Linked DNA regions of Homo sapiens. The protein of the gene in region 2 interacts with the protein of the main gene of each other region in a biochemical or structural test. Each region holds a gene or a part of one and is shown on either strand. Other genes may lie near its edges.

Region 1 (3,090 bases), on a different chromosome or scaffold from region 2:
AAACTTAAAAAAATCCTCGTACTCAGGCTGCATGCCAGATCAGTTCAATCAGAATCTCTGGGGCAGGGGAGTGGGGTGAGAGTGGGATCCAGGCACCAATATTACTTTAAAAACCCCCCCTAGTGATTCCAATGTGCCGAATGTGCAATCAAGTGTGTGAACCTGTGCTACAGAACTAGAGAAGGCAAAGAAAATGTTGTAGCTCCCAGCCTTTCAGCCAGGCACCAGAGCTCACAGGCGGAGACCAGGAATGGAAGAATTAATGTTAACAACCACCATTTACTGAGTACTACATGCTAAGGACCATATACTCCTCTTATTTAATCCTTGTAGCAATCTCTGTAAGGTAGGTAAAATTATGAATCCACATCTTGAAGATGAGAAATTGACACTCAGAGATATTAAATAATCTAGCCAAGGCCACAGAGCTAATTAAGTGGTAGAGCTGGGATTTAAACTTAAGTCTTCTGACAGTGATGTTTCCTGGTTATTATGCCACATTGGCCAGGGAGAGATCATATGCAGAAATCATACAGTTTTAATACCTTTTTTTCTACTGCCCTGCCAATTTTACATAGGCTGCAAGGGAGCCCAGATAAATGAAATTCTGTGTCTAAAACCAAATAATTCGCTGGTGGCCGGGCCAGTACCAGAATACTTAATCTTATCATTATTCCACCATACTTTGCTGCTTCTCTTAGCTTTTCTGCAGAAACAGGACCAATCTGCGTCATAGCTAGAAATAAAGCCATGGCCAGAAGCCCTCCTGTAACCATGCCCTTCTCAGCACTGTGTACATGCTTGTCAGGTGGCACTCCTTCCTTGGAGTGCCAGTGAACATTCCCTTCCCCTCTTTCTCTGTCTCTGCAGCCCCTACCCGTGCCTGTGGACCATCAGCAATGGTGCCGGAGGCCCCAGTGGGCCAGGCCCGGAGGTGCACGCCAGCACCCCAGGAGCATTTCTCCTCGGAAACCCAGCTGTGACTTCACCCCCTTCTGTGCTCTCCACCCAAGCACCCACTTCGGCTGGTGTGGAGGTTCTGGGGGAGCCCTCGCTAACCAGCATTGCTGTGTCCACCTGGACAGCAGTGGCCTCGCATCCCTTCGCGGGCTGGGGTGGCCCAGGAGCGGGTGGGCACCATTCTCCTTCCTCACTGGATGGTTAAGCAGGATCCTAGGAGCCTCTTTGCACAGCGATCCTTCCATGTGTAGAGTGCTTAGAAACCCCATCAACTGATCTAGTGAGTCAGACTGTGGAATCTCCCTTCCCACTAGCTGGAGGTGGAGGTGGGTTATTACAGAAGTCATACTGGGAGAGGGTTCAGTTTGGATGATGCTAGTTAGATCATTTGCATCTCTCCACCATTTTCTTCTGCACTCCCATTTTCTCTGCAGCTTATTCTTGCCATGCTTAGGTGACAGAAGTTTGTTAAGTACCATCCTTGTGCCCTGCCTCTTATTCTCAAATCGTTCTGGAAAGCCTCACTTCCTTTTCTGTGGAGAAGGTGCAAAGCTGTTAAATGAGCTCAGAGTTTACCTAGCTAAGGCCACTGCTTCCTGCTTTGTGAAGCCTGGAAAGTATGTGTGGCCACAGGGCTCAGGTTCACACTTCTGCTTTGAGACCAGGATGGGGTGTAAGCCATAGAGTAAGGTTAACAAAAAGAATAAAGCTAATCATGTATTACAAACAGCAGTGTGCCCAGACTTGTGGAAATGAAGTCATGTCACTCCTCTGCTCAGAAACCTTCAATGGTTCACCATTACCAGTGGAATGAAGTCAATTCTCCTCACTATAACTGGGTGTGGTAGTTTAAGCCTATAATCTCAGCCCTTTTGGAGGCCAAGGTAAGAGGATCGCTTGAGGTCAGGAGTTCGAGACCAGCTTGTGCAACAAAGTGAGAGCCTGTCTCTACAAAAAATAGTCATGCACACAAAATTAGCTGGGCATGGTGGCCTGTGCCTATAGTCCCAACTACTTAGAGGAGGATCGCTTGATCTCAGGAGGTTGAGGCTGCAGTGAATTATGATTGTGGCATTGCACTCCAGCCTGGGTGGTAGATCAAGGCTTTGTTTCATTTGAAAAAAAAGAAAGAAAGAAAGAAAGAAAGAAATCCTACTACGAGCGATCACACCATCTGGCCTGAAACCACTTCCCCAGCTTAGGTCCCTCTGTTATCCTGTTGGCCTCCTATGTATTGGTCAAGGCAGGCATCTCTGTTCTCTGAACATTCATTGCACTTTCCCACCTCTATACCTTGCCTGTGCCTTAGTGTCCTCTTTTTTCCAGTTCACCTGTGCGAATCCGACCCACCTCCCAGAGCCTGGCTGAAACGTCACTCCCTGCATCCAACATCTGATCTGCTGAGATATGTCTGATCTATCTCTGCTCGCTGTTCTCCCGTTGTTTTTGCCTCTGCCATAGAGCTCACCTCATTTTGCCTTGTATTTTTGTTACCTGTGAGTGTGTCTCTCCCTATTAGACTGTAAGCCTCTCGAGGGTGAGGCCTAGCCTTCTTGTCTTTGTAACCCACAGCAGCTGGTACTGTGCCTTGCCTATTGTAGGTGCCCAATAAACATTTGCTGAACTGAATTGGTGTAATGTGCATGTGTGCTACAAGGACGGTGTGAAGTGGCTGGGGGGCAGATCTCAGAGACACATGCCCCATGACACATAGGTGCATCCGTGTGGGAGCCTAGGAACATGCTGGCTGTTAGTTACACGGGCTTCTCATCTGAGGCACCACCAATTGTCAGTGAATGACAATCATATATGGAGACAGGGTGTGTTAGAGTGGTTATTCCCAAATACTGGTTCTTGGATCCCCTAAGTCAGGATCACCTGGAACAGGGGACCCTTGCTAGACATACAGATTCGTGGGTATACCCCGTACCTGTTGGATCAGAATCTTTGGGGCTGGCGTTCAGGAATCTGCATTTCAAACAAGAGCTCCAGGCATTGGCCCTGGGCTAGGTTTGGAAACTCCTTGCCTAGAAGAGAGAAACAGGATGATAAATACTCCAGGAACCTTATTTCAGATGAGTTTTTACCTCTGCCCCAGCCAAGGTCATTGCTATAACCCGTGAGCAGAAT
Region 2 (5,529 bases):
AGAACCACCACCCAATAGGAAGATGAATTTCACATAATAAATGACCCCAAACACCTCCCACCTCAGAAGCAGAAAGGGGCCAACTCTTCCTCTCTCTGCCCCTTTCAGAGCGCGGCTCAGCCCGTTGGGTGCTTCTGCTGCAGCCTTGGATTAGGAGGGACTATGAGGTGGGGACAGCAATGACAGCCATCTGGCCAGGCCAATACATCCTGCCTGGCTGGGCTTTCAGCTCCCACCATTGCCCCTAGCTGGTCAGCAAGGTCCTGCCCGCCTCCTGGCTGTGGGGCTGCACATGTCAGATTCCCTTCCCATGTCTGGGGAGCTCCCACCTGAGGATCTTGCTGGAAAGTCCTTGCCTGGGCTGTGCCAATCCAAGGCCCTGCCCTGCTCTTGAACAAACAGCCACAGGCTAGGAGCAGGGCCACAAGATGGAGGCTGCAATGACGGCAGTGATCGGGGTGGGGTCGTCGTGGGAGGTTTTTTTTTTTTACAAATATAAAAACATTATATATATTGGGGGTATGTATATTACACGTATTATCCTTTTAAAAAGTTTTATTGTGAAATATTTATCCATGAGTACATATAACATAGATGTCCAGTTTTTCAAGTTACAAAAAGCAGACAGCCCTCCCTTTTTTTTTTTTTTTTTGAGACAGAGTCTCGCTCTGTCACCCAGGCTGTAGTCCAGTGGTGCAATCTCAGCTCACTGCAACCTCACCTCCTGGGTTCAAGCGATTCTTCTGCCTCAGCCTCCCCAGTAGCTGGGATTACAGGCGCACACCACCATGCCCGGCTAATTTTTGTATTTTTAGTAGAGACGGGGTTTTGCCTTGTTGGCCAGGCTGGTCTCGAACTCCTGACCTTGTGATCCGCCTGCCTCGGCCTCCCAAAGTGCTGGGATTACAAGCGTGAGCCACTGCGCCTGGCCAAAAGCAGACACCCTTGGAACCACCTCCCAGAACAAGAAGTGGAACATTTCAAGTAAAAAAAATTACACCTGCCCTATGACCCAGCAACCCCACTTCCGGAAATACAAGCAAAATCATGCCCAGGGGTCTTCGTGGCAGCTTGCTCTGCAATGGCAAACACCACACCAAACCAGGAGGAGCTAGCCTGTGCCGACACCTGCACACACGGCTGCCCCAAAGTCCCACACCCAGGGGTGGGATGCTGGAGATGAAGGTCCTGCCAGTGTCACGTGCTGCTTAGTGACAGGGTTGAGGGGCCTTAGTCGGCTTGACTCAAGGTGGCCTCACTGTGGCCTTTTGTATAAAAAAATCTTCAAGTGCTCATTGTTCCCTGAGTGACTCACTTGAGGTAACAGCCTACATACATGACCATAAATGTGGCCAAACATCCCACTCAGAAATATTCATCATAAGCCAGGCGTGGTGGCATACACCTGTAATCCCAGCTACTCAGGAGGCTGAGGTAGGAGAATCCCATGAGCCCATGACCGCACCCCTGCACACCAGCCTGGGTGACAGATGGAGATCCTGTCTCAAAAAAAACACATCAATGTTTGTATAGCTAAAAAGAAAGAAATTTAAATGTCCAATAATGGATAAATAAACTTGATAGTCATTAGAATGACTACAGCAATCAGTGAAAATTTTCAATCATGTGAAAAATGCTTATGTTAAGTCAGGAAACTTCAGAAAACACTGTAATCTGAGCTACTCTGGAGGCTGAGGTGGGAGGATCCTTTGAGCTCAGGAGCTCGAGGCTGCAGTGAGCCATGATTGTGCCACTGTACTCCAGCCTGAGTGACAGAGCAAGACCATCTCCTAAAAACACAAAAATGTTTAAATGCAGAAAACAAAATTGTTTGTAGAATACAATTATAAGGATGCACAAAATAAAAAGACTACAAGACAGGACGGACGTCTCTCCAAATGTTACAAAAAATTAAAGAGAGCTGCAGGCGGGGAGGAGGGAGGAATCTGTCTCCCCCTGGGACTACTCTGGCTCACCGCCCCTCCCTGACTGCTCCTTTGGCCCTTATCATCTCCAGAGGCAAGTTCAGGTAGATCTGAATTTTGTCACACACGCTGTCCTGTAAGCCCAGAAGTCCCCTGGGCACTGCTCTCGCCTCCCAGGCCCAGACAGTACCTAGAACTGGGTTCTCTCTGGGGCAAGGGCATCCCATTTATCCCCCTCCTAGACTGTGTCCCCTTCAAAAAGGCTGCAACAGTGAACTCTGCGTTTATGCTCACCTCCCCCAACCTCCCATCTCTTTCTGAGTTAACAGAGAGGCCAACAGCTGGTCCTCCAGTCCCCAAGCTGAAGCTGGGCAGCTCTTGGGCACATAGGCATGGTGGCAGCTATGCCAGGGCTCCATCCCATGCCTTCTTCAGCTGAGCACCTCTTCCTGGGGCCCCAGAGGGAACACAGCCCCTGGCTGATGGCACAGGGTCAGGGTCCTACCCTCGAGGAGCCAGAAGACGGGGGTGAGGGGCTGGTTGAAGAGGGCATGGAAGGTGTACAGGGGCTGGGTCTGGGGCTCCAGGCTGTAGAAGGTGAGGCAGCCTGAGGCCAGGTCCAAATCCATGCCCAGGAGCCGCCCTGACACCCCTGGGAGGCGCTGGGCTTCCCCGTTGTGCCAGGCCTGGAGGCTGTCCTCCTGGACGCAGAGCCCCCAGGAGCAGGGTCCCCGGCCAATGTTGTCTGTGTGGGGCCCCAGCCTGCACCGTGGCAGTTGCGGGTAGGAGACGCCCAGTGTCACCGAGTGGTCTGACGCGCGCACCTCCCAGTAGTGGTGCCCGGCCTGGAAGCTCTGGGCACATTGCACCTGCCAGAGCTCAAAGCTGCCGGGCCCGCCTGGGCCCCGGGACTGACGACAGTGCTTCACCTGCTGGTCCTGGCGCGACAGATAGAAGTGACGGTTGGCGCTGACTGGATCAAAGGTCAGATTGCGATAATCTGTTGGGGAAAGGAGGACAGCAGTGGGCTGGGGGAAGACAGCACAACCAGATCTCCATTTATCCGCTGCTAAACCTCCGCCAGGCACGCTGAGCACCGGCCGTCACCATAGCACTTAATCCTCGCCACGACCTCGCAGGCGGAATCCTCTATCAGCCCCGTTCACAGCTGAGAAAACTGGGGCTCTGAGAGCCATTAACTCAGTGTTAAGTGGAAGAATTACGGGTCTGTGCCCCAGACTCTGTCCTTCAACGCACACTGGCTGCGTCTGCTTCAGGGTGGATGTGCACGAGGTGTGCAGCGGGTGGGACCAGGCTCAGATGTCCCGGCAGGACAGTCAAAACAAGTGCCCCCCTCACTCACACGTGCATACGAACATGCACACACACACGTGCTCACAGCACACACAGGCACTTCCTTGCACACGCACACACAGGGGCACACATACACGAACGGCCTCCTTACTCTGCCAGAGTTTCCTCCTCAGTGGACAAACTGTGCTTGGGACCGGTGCCAGGGGACCTGGGGCCTCTAGGGGGCAAAGCAGTGTTAAGGGAATGGTTGGAGAGGTCACGATGTGTGGGCCCTGACCCGCCTCCACCCCCCCAGCGGGAGGGGCAGCTGGACCCAGGACAGCAGGGGGAGGCCTGGGGTCAGTCTTACCCACGGGGGCTAAGTCCACAGGCTTGGCTGGTGCCCCAGGGTGGCTCCCCTCTTCCAAGAGGAGGCCACACAGCCGGCTTAGCAACTGCTTCAGGTCACCCAGCTGTTGGTCTTCATCCCACTGCAGAGGGGTCAGTGGCCCAAGAGGCCCTGGGGGCTGGAGGAGCTGCGATTCCTGAGCCCCAGGGAGAACAAGTAAGCCTGGGCCTGAGGGGCAGGGAAGCAAGTCCGCCACCTATGCCCTGAGCCCTCGCACCTGCAGGAAGGTCTGCTCATCCACCTGCTCCAGGAGCTCCCGGATCCTGCAGCCATGGCGAGCCACAGCCTCCAAATGGACCCGCAGCCGCTGCTCCTCGTCTCGAGCCTGTGCCAGCGCCTGCGTCTTGGCCACCTCGATGCTCCTCAGTGCTGTCGTGTGCTGTATTTCCAGGGCCTGTAGCAGGCTGCTGAACTTGCCGGAGACCCAGGAGGCCAAGATGCAGGCCGAGTTCTGGGCGGGAACAGGAGGGGCTTCAGGGTGGCCAGGGCCCTGTGCCATACCAAGGGAGGCTAGGGCCAGGGCTGCCTGCTGGGCTGAGGGTCAGGGATGTGGGGAGGCAGGGTCCCGGGAACCTCCCCAGGACCCCTGTGCCCAGCTCCCTGCTCAGCCCCGCTCCCTGCTGCCTGGTGTTCCAGGGACCAGCTGGTGGCCGCCCCAGGATGCAGTGTGAGGCCATGGTGGGCGGGCAGGCACAGGCCTCGTACCTGGATCTGGCTGCTTTGCTTGCGCAGCTCTAGTAGCTGGCCTTCGGCCTGGGTGGCCTGCTGCTGGGTAACCTCCAGGCTGGCTCTCAGCTGGGCCTGTGGTGCGGGCCCACGGGACAAGCAACAAGAGAAGGCCAGGATTGGCTGTGATGTCCTTTCTCAGACAACCAACCATGCCTGCAGACACCAGGCAGCCCCTCCCCACGCCACCCCAGGCCAGCCTCCAGAGCACCGGCCTCGGTCTAACCCAGGGAGAGTTGGGGCCGTGCCCCGGGGGGGTCCAGACAAAGTCCTTCCTAATCTGCAGCAGGGTGGTGCCTGAGCAGAGCGGAAGCCTTGGGCTCAGGACCCAACTTCCATTCCCATTTCTACCTCTTGCATGCTGAGCAAGCTGAGGCCAAGCACCTGTCCTCTCTGGGCCTAACCCCCCACCCATCAATACAGGAAAGCGATAATGCTGGCTCAGGAGGCCTCGCAGGGAGGACCCCAAACACTAAAGCCGTTGGTCCCTGTCTCACTGCAGAGGGGTCAGTGGCCCAGGAGGCCCTGGGGCTTGAGAAGCTGACTGCAGGGACCTCCCAAAGCACCAAAGCTGTCTGACAAGTGGGCAGTTACTTGCTGGATAAACTAGATTCTTCTGGGGATCCGGCCAGTCCCTGGCCCTAGTTTTGAGACTGAGAGGGGAGGAAGGGACCCCTATTCGGTTGCGCTCCCTGAGTCCCTTGGGAATCAAAACACCGTGCTCTCATGAGAGCAGGACAAACCACGCAGGTCCCAGGGGCTCCATTCCCAGCACCTGGTCAAAAGCTTCACCACCTTGTTTCTGCTCCTCCCGCAATGCACTGAGATGGGGACCATTACTATCCCCACATCACAGAGGAGGAAACGGGCTCAGAGAAGTTGATAATTTGGTCAAAGTCCTCAGATCTTCCTAAGCCCAGAGCTCCTCCGGGCCCCCAGCCTCCAGCATTTCACACAGGAACACAGGAGGCCGGAGGGCAGGCTCTCCCAGGGCACCCAACCCTCCCCCAGGGACAGGCACCCCCATGTCCCTTTCCCTCTCTCTTGCAAAATCCTGGCTCCCCTGGTGCTACTGGCTGCCCCTGTCGCTCCCTTCCTCCACATGGCCCTCATCTACCGGCCTCCAACTCAAACTTCCGTGCCTAGCTCAGTCTTCTGCACCCGCCCATGAGCAGT
Region 3 (7,624 bases), on a different chromosome or scaffold from region 2:
GAACTCGCAATATCTCCGAGGTATGCCGGAATACCTATATTCTTATTATATTCTTAATTTTGTTGCACTAAAATAAAGATAGGAGTTGTGCTCGCTTCGGCAGCACATATACTAAAATAAAGATAGGAGTTTATGCATTACTCACTAATAAAAGTCAGTTTCTCTGCTGGCATGGAGAATAGGAGAGTATTGCCAAACAACAACAACAACAACAACAATAATGGCACCTCTCCTGCCAAGCTGGGAAATTTTACTCCAGGGATTTCCAATATGAAGTTCTACCTAAGCATAGAGTGTCTGGCCCACTTGAGTGTCATAACTTATACATCACCCTAACCTAGTTCACATAAATCCTAACCAATTACCAAACAATAATATGAAAAGTTTGATCAAAGCATTTTCTTCTGAAAAAGATGAGCCAAGTTTGAGGCCTCTTTGAGGTAGGGAGGAAAGTTTCCACAGTTAATGCAACTCAAAATAGGAGGTTGGTGTGCCCAGTTTCCATTGCCTCATTCATCAAGAGAGTTTGTGTTTTGACTTTTGGAAGTCAGTTTTATGGCATGATGTAACGGAGAAAATAATGAAGATTGCAAATTTTCTTTATGCTTATACTTTAATCACTGCTGCTTTATGGATATTTAAGAAGCTAATGCAAGAGAAGTAGATTTAGTCTTTTTTAATTTAGTTACATGGCTAAGTTCTGGAAATTTTTGAAGAAATGTGTTGAAGTGTTCTTAAAATTATAGTCTCAGATCTTACTTGCTGGACCTCCAAAGGCCCCAGAAGGCTGCACACACTTTTCCTTGATGTTACATAGCATAATGTAACATATGCTATGTAACGTAACATCCTCTATGTTACATACCAGTTTCTCTACATAGCTAATGCAACTAACATAACACAAAATCCTCCATGTCCATTATAAAAGTGACTGTTTTGGCAGATCATGAGGTCAGGAGATCGAGACCATCCTAGGTAACACAGTGAAACCTTGTCTCTACTAAAAACACAAAAAATTAGCCGTGCATGGTGGTGGGCACCTGTAGTCCCAGCTACTCAGGAGGCTGAGGCAGGAGAATGGCGTGAACCTGGCAGGCGGAGCTTGCAGTGAGCCGAGATTGCACCACTGCACTCCAGCCTGGGCAACAGAGAAAGACTCTGTCTCAAAAAAAAAAAAAAAAAAGACTTTTGTATTCAGATTCAAACTTGACAAGTGAATTGAGAAGATGGTACCCAAGACTGTTTTTTTTTCCTTCTTTTCTTTTTTAGATAGTGTCTTGCTCTGTTGCTCAGGCTGGAGTGCAGAGCACGATGATCTCAGTTCACTGCAACCTCCACCTCCCAGGTTCAAGCCATTCTCCTGCCTCAGCCTCCTGAGCAGCTGGGATTACAGGAGCATGCCACCACACCTGGCTAATTTTTGTATTTTTAGTAGAGATGGGGTTTCACCATGTTGGCCAGGCTGGTCTCAAACTCCTGACCTCAGGTGATCCACCTGCCTCAGCCTCCCAAAGTTCTGGGATTACAGGCGTGAGCCACCACGACCCGCCGACTGTTTTGCTTTTAATGCTGAACTCTTGAGTTCAAAGGATTTTAAAGACTCACATATTTAGTGAAAATAAGTCCTAATTTTGAAAGCTATTTCACAGATTTTGTTGATTCTAAGTTGCATTCTCTGCAACTCTGAGACACAACCACAGGATGTGTGTGATGATTCCTGTGATTATAAAGCCCTAGACATATTAGAGTGGCTCATTTTCATAAGAAACCACTTGTGCTAAAAGCAAACTACACCATTAACACACAATAGAAGTGAATATCTTAAAGTTAGCTGTGAAATGGAAATACATATTAATGAGTATAGTAGTTCCCTCTTATCCCTGGTTTCATTTTCACCAGTTTTAGTTACCAGTGGTACAGTACAATAAGATATTTTGAGAGAGAGCGAGCATACATTCACATAACTTTTATTACAGTGTACTATAATAATTGTTCTGTTATTATAATTATTGTTAATCTCTTACTGTTCCTAATTTATAAATTATACATAGGGTTTGGTACCATGTGCAGTTTCAGACATCCACTGGGGATCCTGGAACATATCCTACCGTGGATAAGGGGGAACTACTGTAATTATTTACATCAGCTCTGCTCCTGTCTTATTCCAGGATGCTATAACAGAATACTATAGACTGTGTGGCTTAAACAACAGAAATTTCTCACAGTTTGGAGGTAGGGAAGTTAAAGATCAAGGTACCAGCAGATCCAGTGTCTGGTGAAGGTATGCTTTCTGGTTTGCTGTCTTCTCCCTATATCCTCACTTGGCAAGAGAGCAGACAGAGTGATCATCTCTCTCATGTTTCCACTTACAAGGGCACTAATTCCATTCATGAAGGTTCCACCCTCATGACCTAAGTGTCTCCCAAAGGCCCCACCTCCAAATACCATCACATTGGGGATTTAGTCTCCAACATACGAATATTGCGAGGGACACAAACATTTAGTTTATAGCAGCTCTCCTCTTTCAGTCCCATAAAGAGGAGGGCTCTGCCTTGCCATACCAATTCATTTGTGATTTTGTGATTCCAACTCACAAGGAAAGAGAGCTGGGGCAAAGCATCTGAAGCACACAAGAGTAGGGCAAGTTTTGAAAGAGACATAAAAACAAATACTGTGTGTGCAAGGGAAGTGGATGAGAGAAAAAGTGTTTAAGAGACATTGTTTGCTATGTGTCTATTTCACAGTGTTCAGCTATGAGAATTTTTTTTTCTTTTTTTAGACAGAGTCTTGCTCTGTCACCCAGGCTGGAGTGCCATGATGTTATCATAGCTCACTGCAGCCTCAATTTCCTGGGCTCAGGTGATCCTCTCACCCCAGCCTTCAGAGTATCTGAGACTACAGCTGCATGCAACCACACCTGGCTAATTTGTGTATTTTTTGTAGAGATTGGGTTTCATGATGTTGGCCAGGTTGGTCTTGAACTCCTGGAGTCAAATGATCCTCTCTCCTTGACCTCCCAAAGTACTGGATTACAGGCATGAGCTACAGTGCCCAGCCTGAGAATTTTTTAAAAGTCATTTTGAAATTGGGTTTCAGGTTCTTGCCTGTATTTTTTGAATATGGTACTGCTCTAAGACTGGAAAATGTGGACCACAGATTTATAAATACTACACAAAATACTAATCCTAAACTATAGAAATTTCTGGACAAATTTTGAGTAATGTGGGTGGTTACCTAGCTATTTTATGAAACTGCAGAATTAAAGGCCTTTATCTGTAAAAATAACCTCATCAGATTGTTATGATTTTAAAATAAAAACACCTTCACACCTCCTAGAAGACTCCAAGGTGTAAATATCCTCTTTAAATGTACCAGTAAGTAGACTAAGTCCTAGAAGAGTATAATTTTTTTTTTTTACAAATAAAGTTTATTGTACTGTTTGGGGGATGGTATATTTATTACTGCTAAAAAAATTACCATTTTGAATTGCTAATTGGCTATAACAAAGATCAGTAATACAAATTTAAAACATTCATAAAACTGAGCTGAAAACATGCTCCCAAGCCTAGTGGGCAGTAAGGAATCTGGCCAATATACTGTACAACTTGAACATTCAGTTCTTAAGTAGTTTACAACATGGTTTAGCCCTCTTTTAATAATAATAATAAAAAGGTAGGAATATCTTGTATTCCTCCCGCTAGTTGGATGTATTAAAGTGCTTTCACAAAACTAAGACCATGGTGTTAACTCAATATAAAAGGTTGAAAAGATGTTCCTTCTTTTCTTCAGAAAGTTAATGTTCCCTCTCCATATTTGTATTTGCTCAAAGATGAAGCTTTGCATCTGGGAAGTCCTTGAGTAGAGTGTCTCAGAAATAGAAAGCCTGGACTCTCAAGGCTTCATTCCTTTGGCCAACATCTTTGGAGCCTCTCCTTTATGCAAAACACAGTGGCCGGTGCCAGGGCAGCACACAAGCGTCCACAGGAGGCAGGCCCTGCTGTGAGGGGCCAGGGAAGGGCCCAACTAGGAGTGCCAACAACCGCCTAAAATACAGCAGGGCGGCTGCACGGTTAACGTGCGTGTAATTGACTACAGCAAGAAGGATGAGGATCTGTCCATAAATGCCAAGTTCCCCTTCCCGTCGAGTCCGTGTCCCCCATGAAGCCCCGGGTCTAGAGAGCTGGGTCTAGAACTCGCCATTCCGCCCTGAGGGTGTCAAGTGCAGCGTGGAGAGACCTGAGGGGGAAACAAAAAGGCCGAGACAGCCGAAAGGACCAAGCCCGCGCGACCCCCGAAGGCGCTGACGCACGTAGGGCGGCCGGGCGGGGGTCCCACAGGCCTTCAGCGCCGCTTTTTGCCGGGGAGGGAAGCCCGCGGTTCTGCGGACCGCGCCGTCGCGGTCGAGGGTCTGCGCCAGGCTCAGGGTAGGGCGAGGGTGTGTCGCCTCCCGTGCGGCTAGGCCCGGGGCTCGGGGGTGGCCTCGCGGCGAAGCCCCGCCCCCGGCACCGCCCCTCAGGCGCGCGAGCCGATCCCGCGCGCGCCAACCCTTTCCCGGGTCATCGCCCCTCCCCTCTTCCGGGCCGCGAGCCCCCTGCGCGCCGCTTTGGGGCTGCGCTCACTCGTGTGCGCGCTCGTCCGCCCGCCAGTCCTCTCAACGCGCGCTTGGCCGCCCGACGACGCGGGAGCCGCACGCGCCGGACGAGGCTCGCTGCGCTCCCTGTTGCCCAGCGCGGGCCCGTTGAGGCGGAGCCCTCAGTTCCCGGCCAGGACACGGTCTGGGCCGCCGAATCTCCGGCCGAAGAGCGGCGGCGGCAGCGGCGGTGAGGAGACCGGGCCGGGGAAAGGCAGACATGGCGGGGCTGTGGGTATCGGGGGAGGGTGGTCCCGTCGCCCCTGCGGCCACGTCGAAGGCTCGCTGGCGGGCGGCGCACCGGGGACAGGGGAGGGGCAGGGGATGGAACCAGGTTGCATGGGCTCCGGCTCGGCGCCAGAGCGGGGCTGCGGGCCGCGAGGGCGGCCCGCGAGGCTTTCCGCGGGACCCTCGGCGGGCGCCTGAGGAAAAAGACGCCGCCTCAGGGCTCCTGCCACGTTTCCCACAGCGCGTTACATTCCGCCTCCGGGTGGGCGACAACCCCGCGGCTTCCCACCCTCTGTCCACCCCCTTCGCGTCGGTGTTTTTTCTGGAGCTCCGCTTGTTTGCTGGAGAGTCGCGCCTCCGGGAAGCCGGGTCCTCGAACCCAGGGCCGCCCGCCGGGGACAGCGGACCCGCGGGGCAGGCGCACCCTGGCGAGGATGTTGTCGGGGAGGCTGGGCATTGGGCGCCAGGGCCCTTCCCCTTGAACTTGGGGAAAACCGGGATTGCAGAAGTTGGGCGCAGCTCAAGGCGGTTCTTTCAAGAGCGGGTGGAGATGTTTGATCCCTCCTCACCTACCTCTCTCAAAACCCCAGCGGGAGAGCCTAGCAGCAGGTTTCGATGGCTTCAGAAAGTCCAACTCTTAGCCCCTTGGAAAATTATTTCCCCTCTTCATGGCTTTGTGGCGCCGCTGAGGTCGGGCCGGGGCTCCTCACCCCACGGGCCAGTCTTCTCGCGCCCTCCACCTTGGGAACGTCTATCAGGAGAAAAATGTGTTCCTAGAAACGTTTGCGATTAGCTTTTCGTTACAAGGGAGGGAAAAGTACAAAAGTTATAAACTCCTGCGAGGCCGAGCTTGATTCTGGATTCCCTTTGGGTTTTATCCACGCAGCCGTGAGCAGAGGAGCCTTGTGGAACAAAGTAGAACTTGAGGAGCAGCCGCCGCGGTGACGAGGTCCCAGGATGACGTCACCGTGCGATATTTAAAATGGGAGCCTTTTGCTCTGAGTGTGGGTGGAGGACGCCTACTTACTCAAGACGCCTGAGGTCTTCTTGGCCCTGCTTGCCTCTGGTGGTTCTTGCCCTGACTGTAACTCTCCCTCTTTCACCTTTTGGTACTCCTAGAATACTGGTGGGAGTGGGCTTATTTTTCAGCTGTTCGAGCTATCATTTCTTCAAACGGGGAAAACAAAAGTCCAAATGAGTCATCTTGTGTTACAACCAAAAGCAACCACTAAGTGGTTCTTTCCTTCTTTTCTATTTTTTTATATGAAGCAGAGCAAACAGAAACAAATCCAGAACTCAGATATGTGGCACATAGTTGGCAAATGTAATGAATGAGGAGAAAGATCTAGTTAAAAGATTCAGTACATTTCTTTAGTGTGGTTCCTTGTTTGCTTTGCTGGAGTGGAGGCTAATGTAGTTCCATCAGCAAAACTTTCTTCCCAACCCGTATATTAAATTGCCTTGGGTTTTCTTTTCCATCGTATCGTGGTGGAATATAAACGTAGCTTTACAAAGTGGAAATGGCTTACATTTTTCAGGAGGAGGCTGCACAGCAGTCGTGGTGGGCTGGGGTTATGTATACGTGTACACTCGTGTGTGGACCCATGCCCGGTGCCTGCTAGCTGGCTGTAGAAGGTGAATTTCTCATTCTAGGGTTCTGGGAGGAAGATTTGTGTGCCTTCCCCTCCATCAGGCTATCTGCGGCTGCCAGCACACCTCTCAGATAACTGTGTAGAATTTATTTCACAGTGAGGTTCCTTGTTTGAATTTGCACTTGGAATAAAGGAGTCATATTCTGAAGAGAGACTGAAAGAGCAGTTTGAGAAAAGAAAGCTAACAATCAGCTTTATTTTTTTGGAAATGTGGGAACACAAACTACTGCTAGGTTAGTTGTTTTTATGCTAAACATAGCAGAGGCTGTATGTTTTTAATACGTAATTGGCTCCCAAAAAGGTGATGTTGCTTACTAAAGGCAGCATCTTAATAACTCCAGGTTACAGCAGCCAGATGAATGAGCTCACTGAGTAGAGACAACATACATCAAAACAATCTTAGGACAAGGGTTTGCCCTTAAGGATTAATCAATGATAAATCAGATATACCATTTTTAAAGTCCTTTGAGGCAATCCAAAATGTAGCTAAATCTCTGATTATTTCTTTTAGTTTGTTTTTCTGCGGGTGACCTGAATTTCCATTTCTTAAATATGTCCTGATAGATCCACTAGTTTTTGTGTCTCTTAACTTGTGGATAAATGTATCTCTCTTCCTGAAAGAGTACTTTCGGAAAGTCAATGCTGAAATTTTTTATGTAGAACAGTTTTGGGATTTAATTTATATACCATGCAATTCACCCATTTAAAATGTACAGTTCAATGGTTTTAGTATATTCACAAAGTTGTACAACCATTACTATAGTGAAATTTAGTAAATATTTTTATCACCTCAAAAAGTAACCCTGTACTTATTAGCAATGCTCCTTTTCTTGGTTTCCCACTTCCCCGTAGGCCACTAATCTGTCTTCTGTCTATATAGATTTGCTTATTCTGGATATTTCATATCAATGGAATCGTACAATATGTGGTCATTTGTGACTGGCTTCTTTCCCTTAGTGTGATGTATTCAAGGTTCACCCATGTTGTAGCTTATATTAGTACTCATTCGTTTTAACTGCTGAATAATATTCCATTACATGTATATACCACAGTATTTGTCCATTCCTTAATTGGTAAACATATAGATTGTTTTTACTTTTTAGCTATTATGAAT
Region 4 (7,040 bases), on a different chromosome or scaffold from region 2:
TTTTTTTTTTTTTTTTGAGACGGAGTCTCGCTCTGTCACCCAGGCTGGAGTGCAGTGGCACTATCTCCGCTCACTGCAAGCTCCGCCTCCCGGGTTCATGCCATTCTCCTGCCTCAGCCTCCCGAGTAGCTGGGACTACAGGCGCCCACCACCATGCCCGGCTAATTTTTTGTATTTTTGGTAGAGATGGGGTTTCACCATGTTAGCCAGGATGTTCTTGATCTCCTGACCTCGTGATCCACCCACCTCGGCCTTCCAGAGTGCTGGGATTACAAGCGTGAGCCACCACGCCCGGCCCAAAATTCTTTTATTTACCGATATGTTAACAATGTATTCATTCAGCAAGTATTTATCAAGGGGCTGTTATGTCCTCTAGGATCTTAGGATAGTATCAGTTGAACATAGAAAGTTGGTGGCTAGAAGATAACCAGTGCCCTTGTCACCATTCTGCCAAGGATCATAGCTTGTTAAATTGAGGAGCCACATATATTTATAACATATTCGTCATTTTTCTTAGATTTTAGTATCATTTTGAAATGGCCTAACACTTTATAAATAGTTGTACTTCTCCTTTATCCTAGATATAAACCACAGTACTTCAGGATCCCATTATGAAAATTCCCAGCGGGGACCTGTGTCTTCTACAAGTGATTCTAGCACAAACTGTAAGAATGCTGTTGTAAGTGACTTGTCGGAAAAAGAAGCATGGCCCTCAGCCCCTGGCAGTGATCCGGAGTTGGCTTCAGAATGTATGGATGCTGATTCTGCCTCCAGTTCTGAATCAGAGAGAAACATCACTATCATGGCTTCAGGGAACACAGGTGGTGAAAAAGATGGCCTTCGGAATAGCACTGGACTTGGTTCCCAAAACAAGTTTGTAGTTGGTAGCAGCAGCAATAATGTGGGCCATGGAAGTAGTACTGGGCCATGGGGTTTTTCCCATGGAGCCATAATAAGCACATGTCAGGTCTCTGTGGATGCTCCTGAAAGCAAATCTGAAAGTAGCAACAATAGAATGAATGCTTGGGGCACTGTAAGTTCTTCATCAAATGGAGGGTTAAATCCAAGCACTTTGAATTCAGCTAGCAACCATGGTGCCTGGCCAGTATTAGAGAACAATGGACTTGCCCTAAAAGGGCCTGTAGGGAGTGGTAGTTCTGGCATTAATATTCAGTGCAGTACTATAGGCCAGATGCCTAACAATCAGAGTATTAACTCTAAAGTGAGTGGTGGTTCTACCCATGGTACCTGGGGAAGCCTTCAGGAAACTTGTGAATCTGAAGTAAGTGGTACACAGAAGGTTTCATTCAGTGGTCAACCTCAAAATATTACCACTGAAATGACTGGACCAAATAACACTACTAACTTTATGACCTCTAGTTTACCAAACTCCGGTTCAGTGCAGAATAATGAGCTGCCTAGTAGTAACACAGGGGCCTGGCGTGTGAGCACAATGAATCATCCTCAGATGCAGGCTCCATCAGGTATGAATGGCACTTCCCTTTCTCACCTTAGCAATGGAGAGTCAAAAAGTGGAGGCTCTTATGGTACTACATGGGGTGCCTATGGTTCTAATTACTCTGGAGACAAATGTTCAGGCCCTAATGGCCAAGCTAATGGTGACACTGTGAATGCAACTCTAATGCAGCCTGGCGTAAATGGTCCTATGGGCACTAACTTTCAAGTTAACACAAACAAAGGAGGTGGTGTGTGGGAATCTGGTGCAGCAAACTCCCAGAGTACATCATGGGGAAGTGGAAATGGCGCAAATTCTGGAGGAAGTCGAAGAGGATGGGGAACCCCTGCACAAAACACTGGCACTAATTTACCCAGCGTTGAGTGGAACAAACTGCCTAGCAATCAGCATTCCAATGATAGTGCAAATGGCAATGGTAAGACGTTTACAAATGGATGGAAATCTACTGAGGAAGAGGATCAGGGTTCTGCCACATCTCAGACAAATGAGCAAAGCAGTGTGTGGGCCAAAACAGGAGGTACAGTGGAGAGCGATGGTAGTACAGAAAGCACTGGACGCCTTGAGGAAAAAGGAACTGGGGAAAGTCAGAGTAGAGACAGAAGAAAAATTGATCAGCACACATTACTCCAAAGCATTGTAAACAGAACTGACTTAGATCCACGTGTCCTGTCCAACTCTGGTTGGGGACAGACTCCTATTAAGCAGAATACTGCCTGGGATACAGAAACATCACCTAGAGGGGAACGAAAGACTGACAATGGGACAGAGGCCTGGGGAAGCTCTGCAACACAGACTTTTAACTCAGGGGCATGTATAGATAAGACTAGCCCTAATGGTAATGATACCTCATCTGTATCAGGGTGGGGCGATCCCAAACCTGCTCTGAGGTGGGGAGATTCCAAAGGCTCAAACTGCCAGGGGGGGTGGGAAGATGATTCTGCTGCTACAGGAATGGTCAAGAGCAATCAGTGGGGGAATTGCAAAGAGGAGAAGGCTGCATGGAATGACTCGCAAAAGAATAAACAGGGATGGGGTGATGGACAAAAATCAAGCCAAGGGTGGTCTGTTTCTGCCAGTGATAACTGGGGAGAAACTTCAAGGAATAACCATTGGGGTGAGGCCAATAAGAAATCCAGCTCAGGAGGTAGTGACAGTGACAGGTCCGTTTCCGGTTGGAACGAACTTGGTAAAACTAGTTCTTTCACTTGGGGAAACAACATAAATCCAAATAATTCATCAGGATGGGATGAATCTTCTAAACCTACTCCTTCCCAGGGATGGGGAGACCCTCCAAAGTCTAATCAGTCTCTAGGTTGGGGAGATTCGTCAAAGCCAGTCAGCTCTCCAGACTGGAACAAGCAACAAGACATTGTTGGATCTTGGGGAATCCCACCAGCTACAGGCAAACCTCCTGGTACAGGCTGGCTGGGGGGACCTATACCAGCCCCAGCAAAAGAAGAAGAACCCACAGGCTGGGAGGAACCATCCCCAGAATCTATACGTCGCAAAATGGAGATTGATGATGGAACTTCAGCTTGGGGAGATCCAAGCAAATACAACTACAAAAATGTGAACATGTGGAACAAAAACGTCCCAAATGGCAACAGCCGTTCAGACCAGCAAGCACAGGTACATCAGCTGCTAACGCCTGCAAGTGCCATCTCAAACAAAGAGGCAAGCAGTGGCTCTGGTAAGTTTCTATTTTATGAAATCAAGCCTTGTTTTAACTTACTGTTATTATAAGATTTGTATAACAAAGTACTTGGATATGCACACAAAGGCTGTTCTTACTGTAATCCAGAAGCAGCTTGAAAAAAATTATAGGGGTGATGTTTACCACCAGAGAACAGAACTCCACTTTTGGCAGTGTTGTTTGAGTCCTGCACACTTCATTCTCTATTAGAAATGCAAGAGAAGGCGAATTGGACAAAGGCGGTCAAGTGGGAATGCTGTACACTTCTCCAAGTTGTTTTTGAGTTAGGCCTTAACTTGTGGTTTTATTATTTGACTAAAATATCTCCAGAAATAAAACAAGTATCTCATAAATACAGTACTCTCTAAACATTAGGTTGTATATTTGGCTTTAGAAGGGATTTTTTTTTTTAAGTAGGTGAGAAATCCAACTCTACTTAGATACAGTATATATGTTTGTGTATTTAAAACATTTGACAATACCTTTCTAGTATATCCTTACTTTCCTCTCTAATAATGAACTAATTCCTATCTCTGCAAATTTTCCCAACAACATTTTTGTTAAGTGTGATTGGCTACATTGTCTTTGTTAATAAAAGTTTTATTGACTTAATAGTCTCATTGGAAGTGGATATGGGAGTGCTTTCATGAGCTAACTTTTTGGCACTGAATTTTTTTTTTTTAGTCTAAGTATAGTTTGTTGTATTAATTTAGGTTTGATTCTTAAAAGGAAGAAGTATGTATCTAAGATGAAGCCTGTTGGCTTTGATTTTTTTTAATGAAACATTTATGGCTTTTTTTTTTTTTTTTTTTTTTTTTGCTTTGGACAACCTCAGCCTAATACTTCAGATTTTAAAATAAGCATTGTTCAGCATATGTAAAAAGTAGGTGACCCATTATTGTTAGCTGGGTAGTAAATTGTTTTTCCAGTGTAGGTGGTGTGGAAGGGGTACACTTGTGGCACAATTTTTTTTTTTTTTTTTTTTGGAGATGGAGGCTTTCTCCGTCACCCAGGCTGAAGTGCAGTGGCATGATCTCGGTTCACTGCAGCCTCCACCTCCCAGGTTCAAGCAATTCTCCTGTCTCAGCCTCCTGAGTAGCTGGGACTACAGGTGTGTGCCACCACGCCCAGCTAATCTTTGTATTTTTAGTAGAGACCAGGTTTTGCCATGTTGCCCAGGCTGGTCTCAAAATCCTGACCTCAGGTGATCCACCTGCCTCAGCCTCCCAAAGTGCTGGGATTACAGGCATCAGCCACTGTACCCAGCTGGTACAGATGTTATACATACACTGTCACCCAGCTTATCACCTGCTCCAATTTACAAGGTTTGGTTTAGAATGACTTGACTTTTTCAGGAATTAAACTGATGCTCAAAGGAGAGTGGTTTTCCATAACTATGCAAAAATCAGCTCTAGGTCTAGAGGGTAATTATGAAAAAAGTTAAAAAAATTCTCACCTTATATTAATGGGAAATAGTTTGTCTTTTTTTAACATAAAACAGATGCCATCTTTTTGCCTATCACAGTATCATTATTCAGTACATAAACATGAAGTTCTTCATCCTTGGTCCCTAAGTTTTCTTTATTGTCCCTTATTCCACTGCACCTCCTTACCTTCTATGCTGATGACTTCTTTTCCCACACTTTCTAAAGGCTGGGGTGAGCCCTGGGGGGAGCCTTCTACTCCAGCCACAACTGTGGATAATGGTACTTCAGCATGGGGTAAGCCCATAGACAGTGGTCCCAGCTGGGGGGAACCCATTGCTGCGGCATCCAGCACATCCACGTGGGGCTCCAGCTCTGTTGGTCCACAAGCATTAAGCAAATCTGGTAAGTTATTGACAATGCCTGGTAGCTGTTATGTAGCAGTGGCGAACACTCACTGACTATAATTAAATAATTAGATAAGGTTTCTATGTTATTTATAATATATTCATATAATGTAACATGATAGATGATGTTCAGTATTTTGCTCTTTGATTTTGTAACGTGGTTTATTCTCTTTCTGAATTTTCCTCTTTTCTCATATTTCTTAGAACTGTAACTATTCATTTGCATATACTTCATCAAATCTAAATTATATTTTACCAAATTAGGTTATCTAGGAAGAGTCTACTAGCAACTTTCATGCCATCCAGCCTGAGAGGCCAACTAGTGTAGCCATGAGGACACATATTCAGACTGTCAGATGATTCCCTGAAAGTTACAATTAGCATAGTTCAGAAAAGACCCAAGATTGAAATTAACATTGTCATTATCCCATAGGCTGTGTACAAGATGCCCGGTAGGAATCCCAAGGGCCATGTGTGAAGATAAGATGCTTTCTGCTTAAGGCTTTGAATACTCTCTGGCCATTCTCCCTAAAAATATATATAAAAATTAATTCTTTCAAATTTCATTCATCTTCTTTGTCCTGTGCATCACTATGCAGATTATTAAGTGGGTACAAACAAGAGTGCTACCATTGTCCATGTTCAAGAACTATGATTTGTTAAAGGCATGGAGGAGTTTTATTAAATTTTTAAATAAGAATATATTATTTTTCATGGAAGGTTTAGCTCAGTATAAAACATACTTTCCTTCTGTGCAGATGCAGGAAGGGAAATAAGTGTGCACGTGTGTGTTTTCTTAGGTTCTCTACCCAATTTTTAATATATACTTATTCTCCAGAAGGAATTCTTTTATTAAAGTATGTTTCTCTTTATATCACAAATCCACAATCAGGGCCAAAATCTATGCAAGATGGCTGGTGTGGTGATGATATGCCATTGCCTGGAAATCGCCCCACTGGCTGGGAAGAGGAAGAGGATGTGGAGATTGGAATGTGGAATAGTAATTCATCTCAAGAGCTTAACTCATCTTTAAATTGGCCACCATATACAAAGAAAATGTCATCGAAGGTAAACATTTCAAGGGCAAAGCCCTTGAAACTTTAAATTCCAAAGGTAGTTTACCCACAGAAAATTAACTTTTCGCCTGCCCATTTCTGGCGGTCAGTACAGTCCAGGCAGCCCCCACCTTAGGTATAGCCACTTGTATGGGCAGCCACCTAGAGAAACATAAGAAAGACCACAGGAACTTCCTTTCTCCCCACTGCTACAGCTTGGGATTTCTCTCTTCCTCCCCCTCCACCAGTGCTGCCTGGGACAACCCCTCATCCTAGGGTGGTGCCTGCAGTGGTGAGGATGAAGAGGAGGGCAAATCTCCATGTTGACTCTTTCCATCCCACTGCCAGTTCATCTCCCATTTCATTTCCTCACCTGGAGTCCCCCGCCACCCGCTTACCCAGAGTCACCATCCTCCTTATTCACCTGTCATGTTTGTCCCTATCCCATCCCAAAAGGTCCTGTGACAAAAATCCCTAGGAATGATCTGAGCTTGGTTTTGCTTTTATGTGTGGACAAATCATATTCCTAAAGCTGGCTGTACATCGAAATCCCATGGCATTTGTTAAAAATGCAGCTTCCTGTACCTCAGGTCTACTGAAGTTTTGGAAATTGGACCAAGTTTCTTATCCTAAAGAAACTCCTCAAATGTCTCTGATGCAGAGCCAGGTTTGGGAAGCACTGATTTAGAGCACTGGTTCTTAAGAGGTGGCACTGGGGGCTGCTGTCAGATCCTCCTGGGGACCATTTTCAAAATATGTGCCCAGTCCCCCAGGTGGTTCTAACATAACATCCTAACCCACCCTACTTGAGAATGATTACCTTTTGAGGGACCTTAGAAGTCAGATACCAGTGGATAGCTGGACTAGGTAACTGCCAAGGTTCCTCACTTTTAATCCTGGGATTCTAAGTCTAGGACCTGCCATTTTCATTTTTAAAATTTTTCATTTGGCTGAATTTGCCTATTGCCTTGCCATATAGCTTAT

Evidence for each region.
Region 1: the proteins of TRIM65 (region 2) and TBX19 form a complex in vitro, tested with the Homo sapiens proteins (one study listed by BioGRID).
Region 3: the proteins of TRIM65 (region 2) and BTG3 form a complex in vitro, tested with the Homo sapiens proteins (one study listed by BioGRID).
Region 4: of the proteins of TRIM65 (region 2) and TNRC6A, one has a biochemical effect on the other in vitro, tested with the Homo sapiens proteins (one study listed by BioGRID).

The regions. Positions count from the first base shown.
Region 1 is NC_000001.11:168,311,838-168,314,927, forward strand, and holds the end of TBX19 (T-box transcription factor TBX19), read left to right. Parts: intron 1-870; coding exon 871-1,165; 3' UTR 1,166-2,589; downstream 2,590-3,090. UniProt on the Homo sapiens protein: Transcriptional regulator involved in developmental processes. Can activate POMC gene expression and repress the alpha glycoprotein subunit and thyroid-stimulating hormone beta promoters.
Region 2 is NC_000017.11:75,888,423-75,893,951, forward strand, and holds the end of TRIM65 (E3 ubiquitin-protein ligase TRIM65), read right to left. Parts: intron 4,429-5,529; coding exon 4,333-4,428; intron 4,118-4,332; coding exon of another isoform or gene 4,079-4,117; coding exon 3,845-4,078; intron 3,764-3,844; coding exon 3,589-3,763; coding exon of another isoform or gene 3,457-3,588; coding exon 3,391-3,456; intron 2,926-3,390; coding exon 2,357-2,925; 3' UTR 541-2,356; downstream 1-540. UniProt on the Homo sapiens protein: E3 ubiquitin ligase that plays a role in several processes including innate immnity, autophagy or inflammation.
Region 3 is NC_000021.9:17,609,895-17,617,518, reverse strand, and holds the start of BTG3 (protein BTG3), read left to right. Parts: upstream 1-4,617; 5' UTR 4,618-4,820; exon of another isoform or gene 4,821-5,840; coding exon of another isoform or gene 5,841-5,862; exon of another isoform or gene 5,863-6,718; coding exon of another isoform or gene 6,719-6,743; intron 6,744-7,624. UniProt on the Homo sapiens protein: Overexpression impairs serum-induced cell cycle progression from the G0/G1 to S phase.
Region 4 is NC_000016.10:24,788,651-24,795,690, forward strand, and holds part of TNRC6A (trinucleotide repeat-containing gene 6A protein), read left to right. Parts: intron 1-581; coding exon 582-3,167; intron 3,168-4,822; coding exon 4,823-4,999; intron 5,000-5,893; coding exon 5,894-6,069; intron 6,070-7,040.